7 linked regions of the Homo sapiens genome follow. The protein of the gene in region 3 interacts with the protein of the main gene of each other region in a pairwise test. Each region holds a gene or a part of one and is shown on either strand. Other genes may lie near its edges. The genes, in order: CCDC170, CDK6, CCNH, RHOH, GRIPAP1, CCT4 and ZNF655.

What was found.
Region 1: the proteins of CCNH (region 3) and CCDC170 interact in binary tests that used the Homo sapiens proteins (3 or more experiments, as listed by UniProt).
Region 2: the proteins of CCNH (region 3) and CDK6 interact in binary tests that used the Homo sapiens proteins (3 or more experiments, as listed by UniProt).
Region 4: the proteins of CCNH (region 3) and RHOH interact in binary tests that used the Homo sapiens proteins (3 or more experiments, as listed by UniProt).
Region 5: the proteins of CCNH (region 3) and GRIPAP1 interact in binary tests that used the Homo sapiens proteins (3 or more experiments, as listed by UniProt).
Region 6: the proteins of CCNH (region 3) and CCT4 interact in binary tests that used the Homo sapiens proteins (3 or more experiments, as listed by UniProt).
Region 7: the proteins of CCNH (region 3) and ZNF655 interact in binary tests that used the Homo sapiens proteins (3 or more experiments, as listed by UniProt).

What each region holds. Positions count from the first base shown.
Region 1 is NC_000006.12:151,497,017-151,500,516, reverse strand, and holds part of CCDC170 (coiled-coil domain-containing protein 170), read right to left. Parts: exon of another isoform or gene 3,453-3,500; intron 2,382-3,452; exon of another isoform or gene 2,311-2,381; intron 1-2,310. UniProt on the Homo sapiens protein: Plays a role in Golgi-associated microtubules organization and stabilization.
Region 2 is NC_000007.14:92,826,574-92,830,073, forward strand, and holds part of CDK6 (cyclin-dependent kinase 6), read right to left. Parts: intron 1-3,500. UniProt on the Homo sapiens protein: Serine/threonine-protein kinase involved in the control of the cell cycle and differentiation; promotes G1/S transition. Phosphorylates pRB/RB1 and NPM1.
Region 3 is NC_000005.10:87,406,431-87,409,930, forward strand, and holds part of CCNH (cyclin-H), read right to left. Parts: intron 2,934-3,500; coding exon 2,860-2,933; intron 1,757-2,859; coding exon 1,546-1,756; intron 1-1,545. UniProt on the Homo sapiens protein: Regulates CDK7, the catalytic subunit of the CDK-activating kinase (CAK) enzymatic complex. CAK activates the cyclin-associated kinases CDK1, CDK2, CDK4 and CDK6 by threonine phosphorylation.
Region 4 is NC_000004.12:40,195,724-40,199,830, forward strand, and holds the start of RHOH (rho-related GTP-binding protein RhoH precursor), read left to right. Parts: upstream 1-1,307; 5' UTR 1,308-1,577; intron 1,578-4,107.
Region 5 is NC_000023.11:48,992,265-48,995,764, reverse strand, and holds part of GRIPAP1 (GRIP1-associated protein 1), read left to right. Parts: intron 1-2,186; coding exon 2,187-2,337; intron 2,338-3,500. UniProt on the Homo sapiens protein: Regulates the endosomal recycling back to the neuronal plasma membrane, possibly by connecting early and late recycling endosomal domains and promoting segregation of recycling endosomes from early endosomal membranes.
Region 6 is NC_000002.12:61,875,157-61,878,656, reverse strand, and holds part of CCT4 (T-complex protein 1 subunit delta), read left to right. Parts: intron 1-1,142; coding exon 1,143-1,264; intron 1,265-1,604; coding exon 1,605-1,737; intron 1,738-2,422; coding exon 2,423-2,562; intron 2,563-3,500. UniProt on the Homo sapiens protein: Component of the chaperonin-containing T-complex (TRiC), a molecular chaperone complex that assists the folding of actin, tubulin and other proteins upon ATP hydrolysis.
Region 7 is NC_000007.14:99,565,142-99,568,641, reverse strand, and holds part of ZNF655 (zinc finger protein 655), read right to left. Parts: intron 1-3,500. UniProt on the Homo sapiens protein: Probable transcription factor.

The sequences.
Region 1 (3,500 bases), on a different chromosome or scaffold from region 3:
TTAGATTTTTTTAATGCAATATGGCTTTTCTTAGTTAACTAAGCATTTTCTCCATATATATTTATCATAATTACTGATATGTTTGTATTTCTTTCAACTATAATTTATGTTTTCTTTTTTCCCTATTCCTTCTGTTTCTTTTTCTCTATATTCTCTTTTTGGGGGTGGTGGGGTGGAGATTGGTTTTCTTTATATCTAGAGAAGGCTTCTGACTTAAGTTCATATGAAGACATGCAACTAGAGTCAGATCTCTTCTTAAACTTGATTTTGAGAAAAAGGAGTAGAACAAAAAAAAAAAAAACAGAGCAAACCAGAAGAGGGAGGAAATGGTTCTTTAAAAAGTGGAAATAGATACTACCTCATACCCATTAGAAAGGCTACAATAAAGGAAGAAAACACACAGAAAATAACAAGTGGGGGTGAGGATGTGGAGAAATGAAAACCTTTGTGCACTGCTGGTGAGAATGTAAAATGTGTGCAGCCACTACGGAAACAGTGGCAGTTCTTCAAAAAAGTAATAATAGGATTACCATAGGATCCAGCAATTTCACTTCGGGTATATATCCCTCAAAATTGAAAGCAGGGTCTCACAGAGATATTGGTTCACTCATTTTCATAGCAGCATTATTTACAACAGCCAAAAGATAGAAACAACACAAGTGTGCAGAGACAGATGAATGGATAAACAGAACATGACATATGCATACAATGGAATATATTTCAAGCTTAAAAAGGAAGGAAATTCTGATACATGTTACATCATGAAGAAACGTTGAGGACATTATGCTAAGTGAAATAAGCCAGTCATTGAAGGACAAATACAGTCTGATTCCACTTATACAGAGAGAGTGCGTAGAATAGTCAAATACAGCATGATTCCACTTATGCAGCGTGCCTAAAATAGTCAAATACGGTCTGATTCCACTTATACAGCGTGCCTAGAATAGTCAAATACAGTATGATTCCACTTATACAGCATGCCTAGAATAGTCAAATACAGTCTGATTCCACTTATACAGAGTGCCTAGAATAGTCAAATACAGTCTGATTCCACTTATACAGCGTGCCTAGAATAGTCAAATACAGTCTGATTCCACTTATACAGCGTGCCTAGAAGAGTCAAATACAGTCTGATTCCACTTATACAGCGTGCCTAGAAGAGTCAAATACAGTCTGATTCCACTTATACAGTGTGCCTAGAAGAGTCAAATACAGTCTGATTCCACTTATACAGTGTGCCTAGAAGAGTCAAATACAGTCTGATTCCACTTATACAGCATGCCTAGAAGAGTCAAATACAGTCTGATTCCACTTATGCAGCGTGCCTAAAATAGTCAAATACAGTCTGATTCCACTTATACAGCGTGCCTAGAATAGTCAAATACAGTATGATTCCACTTATACAGCATGCCTAGAATAGTCAAATACAGTCTGATTCCACTTATACAGAGTGCCTAGAATAGTCAAATACAGTCTGATTCCACTTATACAGCGTGCCTAGAATAGTCAAATACAGTCTGATTCCACTTATACAGTGTGCCTAGAAGAGTCAAATACAGTCTGATTCCACTTATACAGTGTGCCTAGAAGAGTCAAATACAGTCTGATTCCACTTATACAGAGTGCTTAGAATAGTCAAATACAGTATGATTCCACTTATACAGCGTGCCTAGAATAGTCAAATACAGTCTGATTCCACTTATACAGCATGCCTAGAATAGTTTAATACAGTCTGATTGTACTTATACAGCGTGCCTAGAATACTGAAATACAGTCTGATTCCACTTATACACCGTGCCTAGAATAGTCAAATACAGTCTGATTCCACTTATACAGCATGCCTAGAATAGTTAAATACAGTCTGATTCCACTTATACAGCATGCCTAGAATAGTCAAATTCATAAAGAAAGAAAGTAGAATGGTGGTTGTTAGGAGCTGTGGGGAGGAGGAAATGTGAAGTTATTGCTTAATGAGTACAGAGTTTCAGTTTTGCAAGATGAACAAAGGTTTGAAGATGGCTTGTGGCAACAGTTGCACAACAATGTGAATGTACTTAATGCCACTAAACTGTACATTTGTAAGTTAAGATGGCAAATTTTATGTTATATGTATTTTATATGAGGTTTTTAAAAGTAGAAATGATGGGAAGAAAAAGGAAAACAGACTTTAACTCCTTTATAGTTAGCTATGACCAGCTCTAAGTCCTTTGTTTTGAGGAACTATAGCTGCTGATAGAGTGTGTTGCTATTTACATTTGCTTCTCATAACAATTCTGTTGATAGTTATTCTAATTAACCCTTGTTTTACAGAAAGGAAAGAGATGCTCAAATTCCCAACAATGGTATCTACTGGAGCTGTAACTTTGATCTAGGTTTTCCAGGTATGTGAAAACACTGCCACAGCAAGAGAGCCTACAAGCCACCATATGTCTGTGGCTTCTCACTGGTGTCAGAGGATTTGGAATCCAAGCACTTTCCACAGAACTATTGCTACAGCTTTTTGCTGACTGGTGATCCTATTTTATAATTAGGTCACTTTTCTTTTTTTTTTTTTTTTTTTTTTTGAGATGGTGTGTTCAGTGGCACAATCTTGGCTCACTGCAACCTCTGCCTCCCAGGTTCAGGCAATTCTCCTGCCTCAGCCTCCCCAGTAACTGGGATTACAGGCACCTGCCACCAAGCCTGGCTACTTTTTGTATTTTTAGTACAGACGGGGTTTTACCATGTTAGCCAGGATGGTCTCGAACTCCTGACCTCAAGTGAGCCTCCCGCCTCAGCCTCCCAAAGTGCTGGGATTACAAGCATGAGCCACCGCACCCAGCACATTTTCACTGGGTAGCGTTATTTCAAATGCATGACAAAGTTATGCAGTCTTACTGAAAGCTATGTTTGTAAACTTCCCCCAAAGCATATCTCTTTCCTTCATGTTTGGGCTGCTCCACTTCAATTCTCATAATATTGCTGTTAGTATTTGTCACATTTTCCATCCCAGTAAGGCTGTGCTGGTGATCGCATTATAGGTAAATCCAACTTGAGAAGAGTGCAGCATTAAATTTTAGTGTTGATGAAGGAGTAATCTTTTTATGTGTCTGTTTTTCTTGATTGTAAACTCTTTTTTAATTTTTATTTTATTTTTGAGCCAGGGTCTTGTTCTGTTGCCCAGGCTGGGGTGCAGTAGTGCGATCAAGGCTCACAACAGCCTCAACTTCCTGGGCTCAAGTGATCCTCCCACCTCAGCCTCCCAAGTAGCTAGGACTACAGGCCATGCCTGGGTACTTTTTGTGTTTTTTGTAGAGACGGGGTTTTGCCATGTTGCCCAGTCTGGTCTTAAACTCTTGGGCTCAAGCGATCCACACACCTCTGCCTCCCAAAGTGGATTGTAAACTGTCAATTCTTCATTATGAGCAGGGTCAATCTCCAATTCATTTTTGTATCCTCTGTCCCTCCTACAGATTCTCAAAACACTGACTATTGAGATGGTGGCTGAAGTACTGATGGAA
Region 2 (3,500 bases), on a different chromosome or scaffold from region 3:
GTCTGTAGGATACATGTTAACAAATACAGAGGAAGAACATGAGAATATCCTGTCAAAGCCAAAGCAAGTACAATATTGAAGATAAAAAATGCATAGTCAGGAAAAGTTTAAATATGAGTAAGTATTTGAAGACTCTTACTAAATAGACTTCACATGTGTATGCCTTACAGTTAATACCCACAGATCTCCCAATGTCAATAGTCCAAGATACTTGCTAATGCAGTATACAACTCTAAAACGATGAAAAGTGCTTATCTAAGGGGTTTAAAATTTCAATCAATCAGGAAACATATACGGGTTAACCAATGGTTATGGACACCATGTTATTTATGGATATAAAATACACAATCCTGGTTCTCAAGTCAGCAAACATAAAGTCACTAAACTGAAAATACTTTTACATCTCAAGGGATTTTTTTCTGGTATATCCAATGACCATCAGTCATCCTGTCTTACCAATGTTTAATATAAACCTCTGTCTGAATCTTAGCCATCCTCAATCAGTTTATATCTACAATGCATACAATCACAGAATAAAACTGTTCACTAACAGTGAGATAATTTTTTGCATTCATAAAACAACTCAAATTTTATTATTATAAAACAGATCAAAGGGGGTTGCACTAGGTTAAATCTAAGACTTCTTCCAATTAAAAAAATCCTTATGCTGTGATTCTAATTCTACTGAACTAAATCCTTTAGGAAGGCCAGAGAATAGGAATAATTTAAGTGGCTACTTAAATTACAAAGCCAGTAGATATCCAAATTTCGGCAAACTACTATAGACAAAGGAGATGGTCAAAAATGTTTAATAATAATCCTGACTCAAATGGACTTCCAGACTACAACTGTACACTTGCATAGATTCCTGCCACATGCCTTGCAGTCCCTCCGGTTCACCTCTCAGGCAAGAGCAGCTACATGTGCAGCTGGTAAAATAAAAATCAGGTATGGCAGCAAACTGGTGATATTCAAGAAAACTACCCAGCAGCTCTTGGAAAAATCTCTCTGATTGCTGGCCTGCCTGCTCCACCAAACCTAGCATCTATGGATCATCACTCAAATAGTGACCTTCATGTAAGTATGCTTGTTATCAACCACCGGTGCGTTTTCAGTGCTGCCTCCTGGATCTTGGACAAAGCCCAACATCATACACACTAACTTCTCCTGTTAACAATTCACTGACACCCAGATTTCATCTCTGCTGTGTTCTGTTACATCAAGAAGCTCACAATTAATTTACTTCCTATGAAGACAGAGCAACTCATCTGAACCTCATGAGAAAGAACAATAGTGTGATTAGTTCCTCAGAAGGCATGGAAAACACATATTTGCTTATGTGTCTGATGGTTATTATGCCATCTAATTTTTAAGTATTATGATGTTTTTATTTCATTAACCAGAATGTTACATAATGTGCCAGAGCCACATTATGTAATATTTCATTCATCAGACAAGTACTAAGTGTTTCAATTTTTCCTACTCCTCTTTGTCTAAAATGAATTCAATATTATTAATGAATTACCTGCATAATTTACCTGTATCATCATTTAACTATAGCTATTTTAAATTATTATAATTAATTTAAATTATCATAATTATAGCACAACTTCCTTAAAAGAAGAATTTACTGGAATAATACTCTTGTAGAGATATACTTCAGTATGGCATACTGCAGAATTCAGGAATTTACTGAATTTTTATTCATTTATCGTTATGTCATTCATTCCTGGCAAACTGTCACTTTTGTCTACATACAGTTCATTTTTTCCAAACTAGAAATGTACTCACCCGATTTAACTGCTTCCATCAAACAAACAAACAAAAATTGCTACTTAGTTTTAAGAACAAGTCAATAACTTTAAAATGGCATGACAGACAAGTAGCTTGACCTCCAGAGTGTCTTCCAACCCTAATATCCATGGTTTTACAATGATAGGCTGCATGTATGCTGTGTTTCCTTCTTAAAAAACTTTCCTAAGAAATCATTAATAGTGAGACATTTGTTTTTTTAAAAAAGAAATAATTTATTTTTAATAGGAACCTATTTGCATAGATATTCATTTACCCATGTCTTAAACATAGGAAAATATCCTCAAAGATATTCAAGTTTATACAAGTTTTCCTCTTATAGACCTTTTTTGTCCTTGATTCCATAGAGAGATTCTAATAATTCTATGTTGATAGTGGTTGTATAAAAGGGATATAACTGCAATGTCAAAAATTCAGCATTATCAAGTTCTTCTGTAGGAACAAAAAATGAGCAGAATACCATTGTGAAAATGTTTATTTACTAAACAACCTTGAAAAATCAGAAACTTTTCAAGGAACTCTCAGAGACAGAAAGAACAAACATACTTTTAACATACTGATATTTAAAAGGAGAATTAAACTCCTGCTTTTCCTGCTTTTATTGAAAAAAGCCCTAGTAAATGTATTATTCAACCACACAAATAGCAATTTTATTCAGAAGGATTCTCATGAACTAATCCAATTGAAGACCTGGCTTTACAGAGTCAAATATGTCATGTTTCTTTTACCCTGTTAACAATTAGGTTTTCCAGAGAAAATCACATTTTTACTCACCTTTTATGCAATATATTACTAAGATCTTTAAAAAAGAGAGAAAATTAGAAAACTCTCCTTGAATAATCATTAAGCTTTACAGCCTTTTCTTTGGGTTTTTTGTTTTGTTTTTAAAGCAGTGACTATTCTAATTATAATATTTAAACATCACAAGTTTATTCACTGATATGTAATGACTTTTAGTTTCCAGAGCCAATACTTGAATTTGAATTGCTTTTACTGTTACACTAATAAATATAATCCCTAGAAACAATACAGGTAAGCACTGGCTTGTATCTTTCTTACAGCACATGATCCTATCATGTATCAGGGTTATGGTGATCATCTTATTCCTTCAAACATGGGAAGAACTGCTTCAGGAGAGTAGCTAGGTATGATTTACCCTGGTATCTTTCCCAGCACCTAGCCCCATGGTTTTTAAAGCATATGCCCTTCCTAAATCCTTTTTGAATAAATGGAGCTCAAATGTTCACTTATATTAGCTATGTGTCAGTATCTCATATAGATCAATCCCTATGTTAGGGAGGTAAAATTTAATCTTCAAAAAGCACTTGATTCTGATTAGCCTTTTGGTTATGTTGCCTACTCAATCAGGAAATTCCTGGTAACCGAATTATCAGAAATATCAGTTGTTCTATAAAACTGGTTAGGTTAAGTATAACAAAACAAGGCAATTAAAACAAAGATGAGTAAATTTTTAAAGAGAAGAAAGAACTGCTCATCTCATTACAAGGCAAGTTCTACAAGTGCGGAGACTTTTCCAGGCTTGTTCATTGCTATATCCCCACCTTCTAGAAGAGTCTGGCACATAGTGGACCCTCAGTAAATATTTGGTGAATGAACAGACTGCTGACAAAACATGCTATAATTTTATCTCTATTGTTTTTAGTTCAGGCTGTTCAAACAGGATCCAT
Region 3 (3,500 bases):
TCTATATGCAATCAATCCTCATGTTCTATTGATTCTACCTAACTACAGGCTAAGCATCACAAATCCAAAAAATTCAAAATCCGAAATGCTCCAAAATCTGAAAGTTTCTGAGCACTGACATGACACTCAGGAAATTCTCATTGGAGCATTTCAGATTTTGGATTTGGGATGCTCAACCAGTAAGCACAATGCAAATATTGCAAAATCAAAAAAAAAAAAAGTGTAATCCCAAGTACTTTTAGTCCCAAATTTTTTAGATAAGGGATACTCATCCTGTATCTCTGAAGCCCAGGAAGCTCTTTCTGTATCCACAACCTTCATACGAGTGAAGCCCAGCACTATCTTTTGCTTGGACTCCTTTAACGGTACCCTGTTATTGACTTAATCTATTCTAATCCATTCTCCACGTTATGCCTGACACATACAGATGCGCGATAAATACCTGATCCATAAGGTTGCCAACATGATCTTTTAAAGCTGCAAATCTAATCATGCCACTCTCTAAATTTAAACCTTTCACTAGCTTCTCTTTGCTGTATTCAAAATCTGTAACATTGTCTCCACAGTCTAGACTCTGCCTTCCACTCTGGCAGCAGCTGTCTGTGATCTCTTCCCCCTGCATTGCTAGGCTCTGTTCAGGCTCTTCAGCACGGAATGGTTTCTTGAATTTGAGCTTTTTACCAGGGAAGTCTCTGATTGGAATGTTCTTCTCTCTCCTATTCCTACTCTGAATTTTATTTTAAATGATACGTTCTCAGAATGTTTTCCTTACCCCTTAATCTGTTATCTCCCTCTAAAATATATTTTCCCCTCTGTATCATTGAGCACACTGGATATATGATTGTCTAAAACCTTTAGATTGTAAGGTTCACAAAAGTTGAGACTGTTCCTGTCCTATTTCTGGTTACATCCTCAAGCACAAAGTTTGGCACATAGAAGGTACCCAAATTGAGCCACTGATCTAACATGAATGAACCAATTCCTGATTTGATTCGACTCAGACTATCCAACTTCTCTTTTAGAGCCAAACAAAACAACTTAAAAAAGTTGCTTTTGTCAATGTTTGTTTACGTATATTATTGATGCCTACATAGTGACTTAAGTTCACAAACCTCTAAAAATATAAGTCACTTAGCAATCTTCTAGTTTAAGAATTTTTTATGGTTTAAATCAGGCCCAGATCCATGACAATATAATTCAAAGTTAGAAGAGTTATCTTAAGCCTTTATAGTAAGCACCGTTCTAAACTCTCAATGGTCTTCATTACATCCCTGGATGTAATGAAGATCACTTAAATGAGATTGCAGATCACTTAAATCAGAAACTCTGTAAGTCCCACCCAACAATCTCAGTTAACAATTTCTCCAGATGACTGATGATGCCCACTGAAGTTTGAAAACAACTGCCCTAGATGACCAGGCCAGACCCACAGGTTGTATCCATGCTATAACAACGAGGATGATTATGAGTTTTAAAATTTTGGATTCTTTTGTTAAAGAATAGGAAAGGAGAATGTAGTATTAGTTTATTTTACATCAAGTTTACCTTTAAGTCGATGAGGAAGCCCTCAAATGGTCTGTAAGGATTGTGGACAATAAGGTGGAAATTAAGTTGCTGTATAAGAAGTAGTTCATATTCCAGTATCTGTTCAAGTGCCTTCTCCTGTCCAAGAGGACTCTCCCGGAGGTTTCCAACAAACTGAGGACTAGATACATTGAATTCATCTACTTTGCAGGCCAAAAATGCACAAGTGAGCCTAGAGGAAAAAATAAGGAGGCAGGAGGCAGGGGGTGGGTGGGGTGGAAGAACATGCATATACTTTGAGAAGTATCTAAATAATTTATTTCTAAAAGTATATTCTATAATTGCCTAATATTCAAAAGCGACTGCTAGACATTGCAAGAATTGTTTTTTAAAAGACACTTCCTGTTCACACTTCATTAGGAGACGTAAGACAACTATAAAATTAGGTCAAACCAATATTGCCATGGCATTCAAACATCACTGACTCAATGACAGTGTTATGCAGTACAACCTAAATATCTGGAAAAACAAATTAACTGAGGAATAAGAGTACTTTGTATAATGTAGATGGAAGAGTTAAAAATAAAGCAGTACCCACATATGTACCATGTAAGTATGGGAAGAAAAGTAGGTTAAAGGAACATTGTGGAAGGCCATCGGCAGAAGTCTCTAAGGGCATCTGAATAAGGGACTATTATTTAAGGGACAAACTTGTGAAATTCACCTGGCCACTTCATGCTGTTCAGTATGAGAAAACAGTAAGAAAGCTACTGTAAAAAACAGTTGGCAGTGAGATCAAGGGCCTAATCTTGACTGGTGGAAATGGGAATCAAAAAAGAGAAAACAGGTACAATGTCATTGAGAGCAAACTCTTTGATGAGTTTCATACTAATTTCATTTTTAATGATAGACACAGCGCTCAGCAGAGAGCAGCAACAACAGACCTTTGTTCAACTGAAATGAGTATGAAGCTATAGGATCCGTAAACTGACTGGATGTGGGAGGGGCCACTATAAATGATTCTCAGTCTGAACAACTGGAAGAACAAAGGTGTCTAATAGGAAGAGATGTTAGAGAAGTAGCTAATTTGAGAAAAACAAAATTTGAATCTGGACAAGCTGAAGTTCACATACCATCAGAATTACTGAAGTACAGGTAAACAGAGATCTCAAGTTCTGAATAAAAAAAAAAAAATAGAATTCAAGTCTAAATTACCCTGTATTAGGAAGTCAGTTCTCTCTCTCTCTCTCTCACAATTCTCTCCTCCCAAAAAATACTCAAAAGATTATAAAGGTCTTCTTAAATGAAAACAATATATTAGACAGACATACTCACATTATTATCCTGGGGTGATATTCCATTACTGAGTTATTAAGATAAAAACGTTTGAAATACATACAAGCCGTACCCTAAGGGTTAAAAAAAATATATCATCAGGATCTAGTCACAAATGTTAAATGTTAAATTTTGTGAAACAGAACTTATTTATGGAAAGGTTTCTTTGTAGAGATTACCCAGAAAAATACTAATACTCATTAATTCTTCTTTAATCAAAACAAATTGTGATGAATTACTACAGAAATGCCATAGCCAAAAGATTCTTTCCCATCCTTTGCTTGTCTATCCCCAGCCTACTCTGGCTAATCCTTCCTATGGTCACTGGATTTAAAAATACGTGTGTGTGTGTGTGTGTGTGTGTGTGTGTGTGTATTAGAAATCAGACTATCAAAAATGTTCTGAATTAGATAAATTCAGGAAGAAAAATACAAACGTTCACAGATTAACCAATCTTATAAAAATACTGACAAAAAAACATGGGCAAGGCAATAAGCCTTCTCTCTAAAGCCACTCCATATTTGTGATATAACCATGTATCCATTCCATGATTTGTGATCACTGCTGCCAACTGAATGGCAGAAGCAGCACTACCATTTATTGAATGTATACCATGTGCCAGACTCTGTGCTAAACACGAA
Region 4 (4,107 bases), on a different chromosome or scaffold from region 3:
GTGTGAGCCACCGCCACTGCACCTGGCCTCCCACAGAGGATTTTCTAGGAGATAATGTGCTCTTCAGAAGGCTCGAGGATCTCAGCTGGCAGATTGAGTTCTTACTGTGCATTAACAAATTGACACATGGGTTCATGTGGAAGTCTTGTGAACTTGGTAATTGGGTGTCTATTGATAAGAATGCTCACCTTGTACCATTGATTCCCTCTACAACTATGCTGCAAGCACAGTCATCTGCTTTCACTTCTTTGAACATGCCAACCTCTTTCCCACCTCAGGGCCTTTGCACATACTATTTGCCTCTACGTGGAATGTTCTTTCCTCCTTCTCATCCATTAGAGTGGCAGCAGTACTTTAGAATAATCAGAGGGGTTTAAAATAATATTGATGTCCGGTCCCAACCCAGCTCAATTAAACTCAAATCTTTGAGTGTGGGGCCGATGCACTGATAAAATAAAATAAAAGGCATGGAGTTGACTTTATCCTTACGGTCGGCAGGTATTTTGACCAAGCTATCACCGTGAGCAGTAGCATCAACAGTTAGTTATTCAGGGATTTGGGGCACAGGCGGTTGTGACCACATCACAAAAGTTCAATTTGTTGGGTTAGGCGTTTAGCCATAACCTAAGTAGTTGCAGATGGTCTCTACACCTGGATTGCCCATTAGGACAAAACAAGTAAACTTGTGTTTTTAGGCAAATAATGAAACTCTGAGGAGTCTGAAAAAACAACTCATCGCCAGGTAACTCCCAGCCCAGGTGCTCGTCCATACAGGGGTGAACGCACGGCAGGGGGCTGCTCGAACTCTCACTAAGCCTGCCTCTGTTCTTTGCAAAATATTTGATAGTTTTTAATGCAGCAAAGCGAAGCAGACAATCCACCTCTTGTTTTCCCCAAGCTGATGGGGGGAAAGTTCTAAGGTGTTGTTTCCTAAGCTCAAATTAACCAAGATTGGTCAGTGGCATGGACTTTTTTTTTTTTTTTTTTTGGTAATTTTACTTCCATGAGGAATCATTTGGACTCTTCAGTCTTCCTTTCTTCAGTTTTACGTAGGGCTTTGCTGGAGGAAAATGGGGCTAAGGGGGAGAGAAACATAGTCTCGGAGTAGGGTGGGGGATAAATTAAACGCAAACCCAGCGGTGCGGCAAAGGCCTTATTCTGCCTCTGATCTGGGGAAGTTTCATATTCTAATGGAGAGAAACGCACGTGCACACACACCCCCCTAAACCCACACAAATGAAACCCCCTCTGCGGAGAAGCCGGCTACAGGAAATTGACTTAGGCACAGGAACTTGCTAATCTCTTTTGTCACATTCGGATTGCTCCTGCTGCCCCACACACACTAACCCAACCATCTTGGGGTGGACTCCCTGCCAGCCCAACTGTTGTATTTTCAGTTCTTCCAGTGTGAATCAGTTAATATTCTCGGGAACGAGGGAGAGGTTGATCCTATGAGGAAATCAACCACAGTGAAAAGGCTTGGGCCGCTTTTGTTTTCACCTGCTTTTGTTGAACAAATTTGATTTCCGGAGTCAGTCATTTTACTGTCAAGACATTTCTTCGGCATTCTGCAACAGGTAAGGATTTTGCTTCCTTAAAAGTATTTCTTTGGTGTCAAAAGAAATTTTTCTAATTTTATTTAGCTTTTACTCTAGGCCAAACATCGTAATGACTCTGAGCTACCTGCTGTAAGGTGTAGAATCAATTTACAGGGGGACGGGGGTCGGGGGGGTGAGTGTTGCTTTGATATTCACTGCCCCTCACCACAGTCCTAACAAGATTTTTGAAACATGAAAAGTTACAATAGTTGGCTTTTTGGTTTTCCAGATATTCTAGAGAATGCATATGCTTGTGACTGTGGCTGAGCTCAACTGTATGGGTAGTTTAAATACTACCCAAGGTTTGATGAAGTAAATCTAAAGATGCTCTAAGTTGTGCAAATATGAATTTTAAAGTTGTCTAGTTCAGAAAAGAAACAGAACCGAAGTCTAAATGATGTAGATTTCAATCTGGAATTTCTAGCTTGTGTTTTTCACCTATTGCCAATGTTAATGACCATTTCCCAAAAGTGCTCTATGATGTATAACATGTATTTTTTAATTAAATTTAATCTTTCTTCTGAGGTGGTTTGATTTGGAGATATGCTACGAGGTACCAGTCAGTAGCCTGAGTTGTAACTAAACAAAGTTTGGGAAATCACCGGTTTTAGGTGCTTTACTAAATGAAAGTTGCCATTGACGTATTCAAGCAGGCAACAAGTAGTTGGTGTCCCCTTATTGGTTCTAAGCTGGTGCCGTGGAGGATATAAGAGAAATATTTTAAAAATCTCTACTTTGAAGGACCCTATAATCTGGTAGTTGTGATAAGAAGTAAAATTTAGGAAGCAATGCAAGATGAGAATTCAGTGATGAGTGGGGCAGCACAGGCTTGAAGAGTTCTGTGAATTCCATGGAGGGGGCCTGGGGGCAAACTGGAGTTGTCAGGAAGATCTGGGCTTTGGAAGAATGCGAAGTGTCGGTAGAAGGAGAAGGGGCAGGTGATTTCAGACTGGGAGGACCTTGTGGGCAAAGGCACAAAGGCGAGACTGACCTGGAGATGATAAGGCCAGTTGAAGAGACACTGGAGAAGAGAAGACAGTTTGTTTTACACATTGCAGGAAATCAGATTAGACAGTTAGGGTGTGGACACAAAAGCGAGGACCTTGCAGGCACTGGGGAGAAGTGACCCCATTCAATAGTCCTTGGTCTCCTTCTGCCCTGCGGCTGCGCTTCCTCGGCTCTCACGGCACCAGCAGAATTCCATGTGAGAGGGAGCTTGTCGAGCGTGGCCTCTTCCCACTTGGGGCTGCTTTCTGCATCCCTGTGCCTGGCTGTGGGCCTCCATTTGCCCTCTACTGTCTTCCCTTAGGACATCATTTATGCAGAGAAAGGTTCGTGTGGCTCGGGGTACCAGTAAGACCTCCACCTCTGGTTTCTTCATTTTAAGGAGGCCCTTCAATTATCCAGGAATTAAAGTGGCCTTCCTCTTGGGAGAACGAGTTGGTTGATGAATGATAAGCAAGTCTCTATTCCTCAAAAGCCAGTCCCCAAATTCCATGAAATATGTGCTACTTTCTTTGCATGTCTAAATGAGATGGCACGGGTATGCTTCTGTTCTTTTTCTGGACGTTGTTTAGAGAGTCAGTAGATCATAATAATTCAGACACTTTTTTTCTGGACCATAAAATATCTGAACCCATATAATAACAAACATACAGCACGGTGAATAAGAACCCAACTTTTGAGCCAGATCACTTTGCATGGAATCCCCATTCTATCATTCTATCATTTCTGGGCTGTGGGAACCTCAGACAAGTTACTTAACTTCTTCAATGCTCAGATTAAAAAAAAAATTCACAAAATATCTCTAATAACAGTAATAATAACTGAAAATACCTACCTCAGAGGGTTGTCGTAGAGATCAAATGAGATAAAAATATGTAAAGCATGTAGCCTAGTGCCTGACTGAAAAAAAAATCTCTCAATAGATGCAACTCTTATGATTCTTATTAAGGACTTGGCTATTGCCACAAATGAAGGTGTTATGAGCCCTGGCTTAAGAGCAAGAAGCCTGCAAAGCTAACTCTCCTAATCCCAACATTCCTTTCCAGGGAAAGTAGGGTGACAGGTGGAGGCTGGGAATTAACGTTTTTTGAGCACCAAATATGGACAAGGCACAGGGGTTGGGTGTTTTTCTAGTGAGAATACATATGAAAGAAGGAAAACAAACTTGGAAACCGCTATTTTAAGCCATTTGGTAACAGTTTCTCTAGCTTATGAGATGAGAGAGGTCCTCTCAGTATCCGCTGCATTACTTGTGGGCCTCCTTGGTTGACGTCGCTCTCTGAACGCTTGGGGTGGAATTCTAGAGGTGCTTTTCATTAGAGGCAGAGAGCATGACCTTTCTTCCTTGCCCAGTTTAAATTAAATTATTTTATCTTACAATGTGTTAATTTTAGTGCTAGCAAGGCACAGCTAAAATTCCATTTCTACTTAGGAGTGGGGATCATTGTGGCAGTGAGTGCTTATTTGGGTTTGGGATGCTTGGATCTGGGTGAAAGCCAGGATT
Region 5 (3,500 bases), on a different chromosome or scaffold from region 3:
AATTAGCCGGGTGTGGTGGCACGTGCCTGTAGTCCCAGCTACTCGGGAGGCTGAGGCAGGAGAATCGCTTGAACCCGGGAGGCGGAGGTTGTAGTGAGCCAAGATTGCACCACTGCACTCCAGCCTGGGCGACAGAGCAAGACTCTGTCTCAATTTAAAAAAAAAAAGTTTTATATCCACCCTGTGGCCCTGCTTTGCCTTAGCCTCTACCACTTATCATCTGCTGTTTCTACAGCCGCCTCCCTGGTCTCTTCACTTCTAGTTTCTTCTACTTAGTTCACACCACAGAGGCTGTTCTGACCTGCAGATCTTATGACATCACTCCTTTACTTAATACATTCCAGTGCCCCAGTCCTGCTCCTAGTTCAGAGCCCCTGGTATTCACATAACTGCTGGCTTCACTGACTGACTCCTCACTGCTTCCTGCCTCCAGCCTCCATGGTATCATGATTCTTGCAGAGTGAGGCAGGGGCAGACATTCTTCCATAAATCCAGCTTGTTTCCCTGCATCTGCCCTGGGCCAGCACTGGGCTAGTCGTAGAGACTTCCTACATAGTCCCCTTCCTCCTCCAACTCCTCCCAGGAACTGGAAGTGCTCTCAGAGAGAGCTACGTTAAACCTGCCACCACCCCTTATTCATCAAGACATTTCAGCTTAATTGTTCCTTCGACAAATAGTTACTGAGTACCCACCACATGCTCTATGTTCTGGAAATACAGTTGTAAGCAGCACAGAATGATCTCCACTCTTGGGTAGCTTACATTCTGGGGGTGGGATGAGGAGAAAGATGATAACAGTAAACAAATAATACTAGTAGTGATAGCTGACATTTATATGGTGCTTACTGTGTGCCAAGTCCTGTTTGAAGTACTCTACATTATTCACTCATTTAATCTTTGAAATAAGCCTATGAGATATTAGTATCCCTATCTGACAGATGAGGAAAACTGAGTTCCAGGGAGATTAAGTAATTTGTCACACAGCTAGTAAATGGCAGAGCAGAAATTCACATTCAAGCAGTCTGGTTTCAGAATCTGTGCTTGTTACAAAAGAAAATTTTGATTAGTACTAGGTAAGAAAGAAATGAACAGTGCTGTGACAGAGAGTACTGGAATTTTCTGTGTTGAGGGATACTACTTTAAAGGCAACATCTGAGCAGAGCACTGAGGGATGCAAAGAAGCCAGTTAGGTGAAGAACTGGATGAGAGGATTGGTGTTCTGGGTAGAAAATATTGCAAGCAGGCCGGGTGCGGTGGCTCATGCCTGTAATCCCAGCACTTTGGGAGGCCGAGGCAGGTGGATCACCTGAGGTCAGGAGTTCAAGACCAGCCTGGCCAACATGGCGAAACCCCGTCTCTAATAAGAATACAAAAATTAGCCGGGCACGGTGGCGCATGCCTGTAGTCCCAGCTACTCAGGAGGCTGAGGCAGGAGAATCACTTGAACCCGGGTGGCGGAGGTTGCAGTGGGCTGAAATCGTGCCACTGTACTCCAGGCTGGGTGACAGAGCGAGACTCCATCTCAAAAAAAAAAAAAAAAAAAAAAGAAAGAAAATATTGCAGGCAATAAAATAAAAATTCTCTGTAGGCCTCGATATTCTCATCTGAAAATGGGGACAAGGAATTTTCTCAGGACTGCTTTGAGAAGTGTACTTCAGCCAGGAGTTGGGCAGGGGGCTGGCTTAGTTGTATTGGCATTGTATACCTCTCCAAGACTAACGGCTGGCAATGCAGGAGCTGTCATCAGTGTTGGCCCTGGAAATGCCCTGCGAGCTCTTTGTGGTGCTTAGGATGAGAGGGAGCTATCTCTGGGCCCAGGATCCAGCCCTCCACAGAAGAGGGGTTGCAGTGAGGCTGTCTGTAGCACTAACAACTTCCAGAGGAGCCTGAGGTCTTGGATTGCATCTCTGAGGTTGGGAGTAGGAAGAGGAAAATGGTTTTTGGTGTCCTCATACTTGGTATGCTCTTGGTATTCTCTGACTCTGCCACTTAAAAGATGTGTGAATTTGAACTTGTTTAACATCTCTGTGCCTCAATGTCCTTATTTGTAAAGTGGGAGGGCACCTATATCATAGGGTCATTATGGGAATTAAGTGAATTGTAAAGTACATGGACAAATGCTATGTAGGTTTCAGCAAATACTGCTCTGATTCTCTGCTTCTCTGCCCCTTCTCTTCCTCTGTTCAGCTCTGCAGCCAGATGGAACAGCTGGAGCAAGAGAACCAGCAACTGAAGGAGGGGGCTGCAGGAGCAGGGGTTGCCCAAGCTGGGCCCCTCGTGGATGGGGAGCTGCTGAGGCTACAGGCTGAAAACACAGCCTTGCAGAAGAACGTGGCAGGTGCATAGAGGCCCTCCTGGGGATGCGGAGACATTGGGGCTTGAGTAGGGCAAGGAAGGCCGTCATCCTCTCAGGGGAAGGAGAAGGGCTTCAGAAATAGGGTTGGCCCATGCCCTGTGTGGCTTTGGACAAGCCATTTCACCTCTCTGAGCCAAAGCCTTATCATCTACACAGTGCATGTAGTGATGTCTGTCACCCAGAAGATTGTAGTAGAGATAAAAGGTGATATCATTCTGCATTAGTTCAGTGTCTGGTACCTAGCAGATGTTACAGATTAGCAGCTTGAATGTCAAAAAGGAGATATTTGCGGCCGGGCGCGGTGGCTCACGCCTGTAATCCCAGCACTTTGGGAGGCTGAGGCGGGCGGATTGCGAGGTCAGCAGATCAAGACCATCCTGGCTAACATGGTGAAACCCCGTCTCTACTAGAAATACAGAAAATTGGCCGGGCACGGTGGCGGGCGCCTGTAGTCCCAGCTACTCTGGAGGCTGAGGCAGGAGAATGGTGTGAACCTGGGAGGTGGAGCTTGCAGTGAGCCGAGATCACACCACTGCACTCCAGCCTGGGCGACAGAGCGAGACTCCATCTCAAAAAAAAAAAGGAGATATTTGCTAAGTGAAAAAGTGAATGGAGTGTTGGGAAGATTCTGAGCCCAGATTGTAAGTGGGGTCTGGGATGAAAGCTGAAAGAAAGCTTGATAGAGTGTGGGAGCATGTGGTGTGTGGAACTTTGGAGAGCAGCTGGGACTTCTGTGGTGATGGATGCTGGTTCCATGACCAGGAGGGAGACTTAGTAGAATGTGAGTAGGAATTAGGAGGCTCTAGGAGGGATTCAGCTGTAAGTCAGTGGTAGCATATGGTGGGCATGGCCTTCAAGGGCTATGGGTGGGGCTTCAAGGATTGAGAATGGGATTTGTGAAACCAGCTTGGGCTAATTTAATAGTAAACAGAATCTTAGTGGTTGATAGGGCTTAAAATATTTGTGAGAGCCTGGGCACAGTGGCTCATACCTTGATTCCAGCACTCTGGGAGGCTGAGGCAGAAGGATCTCTTGAGGCTAGGAGTTTAAGACCAGCCTAGGCAACATAGCAGGAACTTGTGTGTACTAAAAATAAAATAATTAGGCCAGGCACGGTGTTTCACACCTGTAATCCTAGCACTTTG
Region 6 (3,500 bases), on a different chromosome or scaffold from region 3:
CACTTTTCTGTTTAATGCATTGTAACAGTGTTTTGATAAAGCTAGATATTTTAATTTGCCTATAAGAAACCTTTTCCTCCACCAAATCAGAAAGACTGCCATAGATTACTGGCAGTATAGCTAATTTTTATTGAATATTTAATATGGTGGGCATTGTGATAAGTTTTTTACATTTATTGTCCTCTTCAAGGCCCTCAGATAGTCATATCCCCATTTTATAGATGAAAAGAGTAGATCTAGAGGAGTAACTTATCCAAGGACCGCTAACAGAAACAGCTGAGATTTGAACCCAGGACAGGCTGCCCATCGTGGTCCATCCCTTAACTAATACTTATGCTGCTTTTCTTATTTACCAAACTTAAAGCGGTGTTGTGCTTTTAAATTTCTTTGGAACTCATGTCACTTGTTTTCTGTAATATCCTGTGTTTATCCCTTCCTTCCCCTAATCCTTTTTCCTTTTAAAAATCAGTATTAAGTCCATACATTCATTTTGTTTGAATGTTAGGTAGTGTTAGGGACACTAAGTGATACTGTTGGATGTCCTTAGAACTAATACAGATAGTATAGCGTAATGGTTACAAGCACTAGGCATTGAGTCTAGACTGCTTGTGTTTGTTCAGTACTGACTTCACCACTTAACTACGCTGTTTGGCCAAATGACTTAACCTCTTGGCTTCAGTTTCTCCATCTGAAGATTGAATGAGTTAATATGTAAAGTTCTAAGACCACTGCCTGGCATATGTTAAGTGATTGATAAATGTTAGCAATTTTTATCAACCCCTCATCAGGAATGTACATACATAACATTGATGCCTCATCACACATTCATTTTAGATAGAAAATACTCACGTAAAATTAAATTTATGCTTTTTGGATTTCCTGTAAAACTTTGATATTCTACAGTCCCGGCTATTATATTAATAAAAGAAAAAAGCAAGCATACATGTTTTTATTTTGTGCCCCTGGTGACAACCTGAATGGAAAAGACACTTTATGGACTGTCTTCTCATGAGTGTTTCCCTCTTCATACCCACACCCCACTGCAAAAATTATAAGAGTCTTTCTTAAGTATCTTTGTCATTGAAAAATTAGGACTTTTTTCTACTGTGAAGGTAACTTTTTTTTTTTTTTAATAATTCTAGGTGGTTTCTCAGTATTCAAGTCTGCTTTCTCCAATGAGTGTAAATGCAGTGATGAAAGTGATTGACCCAGCCACAGCCACCAGTGTAGATCTTAGAGATATTAAAATAGTTAAGAAGCTTGGGTAAGCATCTCTAATTACAACTTGAATAAAAATTTGAAAATGAGCATCAGATTGCCAAAAATAAATAAAAACACCTAGATGAAAGTCACAAAGCTCTCTTTTCTCTTTTTGGTTTTGTTTTCGTGAGAATTTGTATTAGTATGGGCATCTGGAGATTTTGTTTATGTTACCTTATGATAGTAAGGCAGCAGTGGATCAAAGAGATCCAGGAGTGGGGCAATAATAAATGTGAGGCTGAATCATATTTTATTGGACTGATGACTTTTAATCTGTTCATCTATTAAACGTACAGATGTCCACTCCCTCTTAACTACCCCTCTTTGTTTTCTTTTATCCTTAGTGGGACAATTGATGACTGTGAGTTGGTGGAAGGGCTGGTTCTCACCCAAAAAGTGTCAAATTCTGGCATAACCAGAGTTGAAAAGGCCAAGATTGGGCTTATTCAGTTTTGCTTATCTGCTCCCAAAACAGACGTAAGTAGAATCCAAATGAAATTGGTTCTCTGTGTTTAACTTTTTAATAACTCAGGCATTTCTTTATTAAAAATAGAAAATACTACTAGTGATTTAAAGCAGATCTCAAAAGACTTACTAGAATTGAGACAAAAATAGTAATTGTTGGTGCCACAAGTGACAAGTCTGTATCCTCAGTTGGGATATTGAAATTGAGAGCTAGCCATTTGCAACGATGCCTGTAGTCCCAGCTCCTTGGGAAATTGAAGCAGAAAAATTGCTTGAACCTAGGAGTTTGAGGTTGCAGGGTGCTATTCCATGACCTGTGAATAGTCCCTGCACTCCACTCCAGCCTGGGCAACATAGTGGGACCCCATCTTTTCACTGTTGCTGTTAATTTACAAATTCACACAGATTAGAGAGGGACCCTATCTTTTGAAAACAACTAGGGTAACCATTTTATATTTTTTGGTTATAAAAAATTTACTTGCAAAATGTAAGATACCAGTGTACTTAGTTGAAAATAAAAGACTCAAGTTTGGGATGTGTATCTTAATCCAGACTCTTTTCTATGCATGTCTATATAATTTATTACTTGATATAGTTTTGGTTGAATTTATACAACACATAGTATTTTCGCTTAAAATTCTACTTTTAAACTTAAAATATCTTACAATGCAAATTATGATGTTCTTTTTCTGAACAGATGGATAATCAAATAGTGGTTTCTGACTATGCCCAGATGGACCGAGTGCTGCGAGAAGAGAGAGCCTATATTTTAAATTTAGTGAAGCAAATTAAAAAAACAGGATGTAATGTCCTTCTCATACAGAAATCTATTCTAAGGTGTGGGGCTATTTATTTTGTTCATCCCTTAATGATAATTTTGGATCTCCACTAGCAGTTTATTTTTTCTGATAAAATATATGATTTAAGCACTTACTCTAAGTTCGTATTTCTTAACAGACAACTCTTAGGTGAAACGAAATGGAGAATTTTTATTTTAAAAGCACAGGTAAAATGTTAGGCCTCAATATTGTACCATCATTTGCTCAGACCAAGGGAAAAAATGGTATAAGTTCAGTTAAGATGTCTAGGAAAAGCATTTTAAACAAATATATGACTTGTAAATTCAAAACAATAAAGGTGTAATTTTCTTTTACAAAAAAAAGTAGGTTTTTTAAAATAGCCAACTAACTGCCAGAATGTTGTGTTTTGGCCTTTTAAAAAACTTATTTCTTCGATTATTGGCTTCAGGGTGGAGCCCTTAAGGAACAGGGCCAAGAAAGCATGCAGTTTTTAGAGTCTAAACCACACTTCTAATAGCAATTTTTTTTAATTTTTTTTTTTTTTTTTTTGAGACAGAGTCTCACTCTGTCATCCAGGCTGGAGTGCAGTGGTGCAATCTCGGCTCACTGCAACCTCCGCCTCCTGGGTTCAACAAGTGATTCTACTGCCTCAGCCTCCCGAGTAGCTGGGACTGCAGGCACGTGCCACCACACCTGGCTAATTTTTTGTATTTTTTGAGTAGAGATGGGGTTTTACCATGTTAGCCAGGATGGTCTCGATCTCCTGACCTCATGATCCACCCGCCTCAGCCTCCCAAAGTGCTGGGATTACAGGCATGAGCCACCGCACCCAGCCTCTAAGAGCAATTTTTATAGAAACATTTGAGTTGGGTAAACCACCAGAAATCTGCATTTTTTTTTTTAGCAGTATCATTATTTTTCCTTGCAGTTACAAGCTGGAAAAGCATTATTATGTTTTGATAAAAAGTGCGTAAT
Region 7 (3,500 bases), on a different chromosome or scaffold from region 3:
TACAAAAAATTAAAATTAAAAATTAAAAGGGATCTAAAAGATGATTTATTATCAAGGAAATGGAAATCCTTTACAATAAAAATCCAAACCCCAGCCAGGCACGGTGGCTCGCGCCTGTAATCCTAGCACTTTGGGAGGCCAAGGCAGGCAGATCACAAGGTCAGGAGATCGAGACCATCCTGGCTAACACGGTGAAACCCTGTCTCTACTAAAAATACCAAAAATTAGCCGGGCGTGATGGCGGGTGCCTGTAGTCCCAGCCACTCGAGAGACTGAGGAAGGAGAATCGCTTGAACCCGGGAGGCAGAGGTTGCAGTGAGCCGAGATCACGCCACTACACTCCAGCCTGGGAGACTCCATTTCAAAAAAAAAAAAAAAAATCCAAATCCCTAGACAATAGTCCAAACAATAATAAATTTGAGGAAACTCCACTATAAATAAATAATTTGAACACACTCCTGAAATTTTTATTTGTATTAAAAAATCTGGTCTATGGCTCATATCGCTTGCTATTCTTTCCAAAATATTAAAGTAACTAGCACAAGGCAGGTACTTAATTTTTTTTTTTTTTTTTTGGCCGGGGGGTATGGAGTCTCGCTCTGTCGCCCAGGCTGGAGTGCAATGGCATGATCTTGGCTCACTGCAACCTCCACCTCCCGGGTTCAAGCGATTCTCCAGCCTCAGCCTCCTGGGTAGCTGCAATCACAGGCATGTACCACCATGCCCAGCTAATTTTTGTATTTTTAGTAGAGACGGGGTTTCACCATGTTGGTCAGGCTGGTCTCGAACTCCTGACCTTGTGATCCGCCCACCTCACCCTCCCAAAGTGCTGGATTACAGGCGTGAGCCACCGCACCCGACACAAGCCAGGTACTTATATGCATAATCTAATTCAATCCTGTACCCAGAAGGTAGACATTATTTTTCATGTTTTATAAACCAAGAAAATGAGTGTCAGATTAAATAATTTGCTCAACATACTACAGCTGGTAAGTGGAACCCAAGCTTGATCCCAGTTTATATTCTTTCCAACCTATCATACTGCCTATCAAAGAAAGCATTAGTAGCAGGTTCTCTTGACATTGACGTGAATGCTTTTTTTTTTTTTTTGAGACGGAGTTGCACTCTGTCACCCAGGCTGGAGTGCAATGGCACGATCTCGGCTCACCTCAACTCCACCTCCTGGGTTCAAGTGATTCTCCTGCCTCAGCCTCCAGAGTAGCTGGGATTACAGGCATGCGCCACCATGCCCGGCTAATTTTGTATTTTTAGTAGAGACGGGGTTTCTCCATGTTGGTCAGGCTGGTCTCGAACTCCCAACCTCAGGTGATCCGCCTGCCTTGGCCTCCCAAAGTGCTGGGATTACATGTGTGAGCCACAGCACCTGGCCGACTCTATGCTTTCAAAATATGCACTTGCTTTACATTTTTTCCGTTTAAAATTAAGTTATTAAAACCTTTTGATTTTAAGGCTGGATGTGGAACACATGAGGCCAAGAGTTCAAGACCAGCCTGGCCAACATGGCAAAACCCCATCTCTACTAAAAATACAAAAATTAGCTGGGTATGGTGGTGCATGCCTGTAGTCCCAGCTACTCTGGAGGCTGAGGCACAAGAATGGCTTGGGCCTGAGAGGCGGAGGTTGCAGTGAGCTGACATTGTGCCACCACACTCCAGCCTGAGCGACAGAGCAAGACTGTCTCCAAAAAAAAAATTATTTTATTTAAATCTTGAGAGTTTTCTAATAAAATTTATTTTAATCTGGTCTTCAAAAATAACAGTTAAAGCTGAGCATGGTGTTGGCTCACATGTGTAATCCCAGGACTCTGGGGAGCTGAGGCATGCAGATCACTTGAGCCCAGGAGTTCAACAGCCTGGGTAACATAGCGAAACACCTTCTTTACTAAAAATAGAAAAAAATTAGCATGATGGTACAGGCCTATAGTCCCAGCTACCCAGAAGGCTGAGGTAGGAGGATCACCTGAGCCTGGAGGGAAGTCCAGGCTGCAGTGAGCTGTTATCATGCCACTGTATTCTAGCCTGGGCAACAAGAGGGGACCCTGCCTCAAAAATAATATTTAAAATTTGCCTTATCATATGGTTTGCTGCTTTTACTACGGCTATGCTTTTAGCCATCTGAAAGCTTCACGCTTTTCTTCCTGGTCCTTAATACACAAATAATATCTCTCCTTAGCAATATCATTCTTTTGTAGATACCTGTTGGACTGGAATGTGTCCCTAGAGAGTTTTACTTTTTGAATGCATGTCCTTTCTGGTCCCAAACTATATACTGGCCTGTCTGTCCAATTTGTCATGGCATTTTGAATTTTTCTTGTCATCAGAGTACACACAACTCACTAAAAATATTAAAAACTCCATGTGTAGTTGAACTTATTGTCCTAAGGGCACAAAGTAGTGAAAAAGTGCAGGGGCTTCAGAGGCAGATCTGGGTCCCAAGCCTCTCACTGATCCTGCAAAGATCACTTAACTTCTCTGAGCCTCAGTTTCCTCAGATATAAAATAGGAGCAGTGTCATCTGCTCACAGGGTTATGGTAAGGATTAAATGAGATATATACACATATCCTTTATATATATATATACACACACACACACACACACATATAAATGTCCTATGTCTGTGTGTGTGTATATACATATGTGTGTGTGTGTGTATACATACATATATATAGTACCCAATAACATATTGGCTGCTCAATAAATACTAAATAGCTGTGACAATGGAAAACATTCTGTGCAAAATAACTGTAGTCCTTCATGACATCAAGTTAAAAAAGCAGAGAGTATGTGCCAAACATTCCCAATCTACTGACCCAGTTAATATCAATTAGAATTTTAACAAGCATGCTTCTGAGGCCATCATCTAATAGGGCACCTGCCACACTTACCCATGTGAAAAGCAACTCGGTCCCCTTTATGGGTCTTAATCTACCACACTAAGTAACAGGTAACTTCCCTATGGATAGTGACCCAGAGGCAAATTGTTCATTCATCATCAATGGAGTATGTTCTTTTTTCAATTATGTGGTAACGAAAATTACTTATTACCGACTTCTTTACTCAGCTATTTGTACTCTGTATATTTACTGCTGCATAGTGGAAGCACTTAAGCAAAGGACCAACGTTCTAATGTCTGTGACAAATACAATCTGGAGGCCAGGCGCAGTGGCTCACAACCTGTAATCCCAGCACTTTGGGAGGCCGAGACAGGCGGATCACGAGGTCAGGAGATCGAGACCATCCTGGCTAAGATGGCAAAACCCCATCTCTACTAAAAATACGAAAAGATTAGCCAGGCATGGTGGCGAGCATCTGTAGTCCCAGCTACTTGGGAGGCTGAGGCAGGAGAATGGCATGAAGCCGGGAGGTGGAGCTTGCGGTGAGCAGAGATGGTGCCACTGCACTCCAGCCTGGGCAACAGAGCAAGACTCCGTCTCAAAAAAAAAAAAAGTCTTACAACCCTAAAAAGTTAAATTAATAAA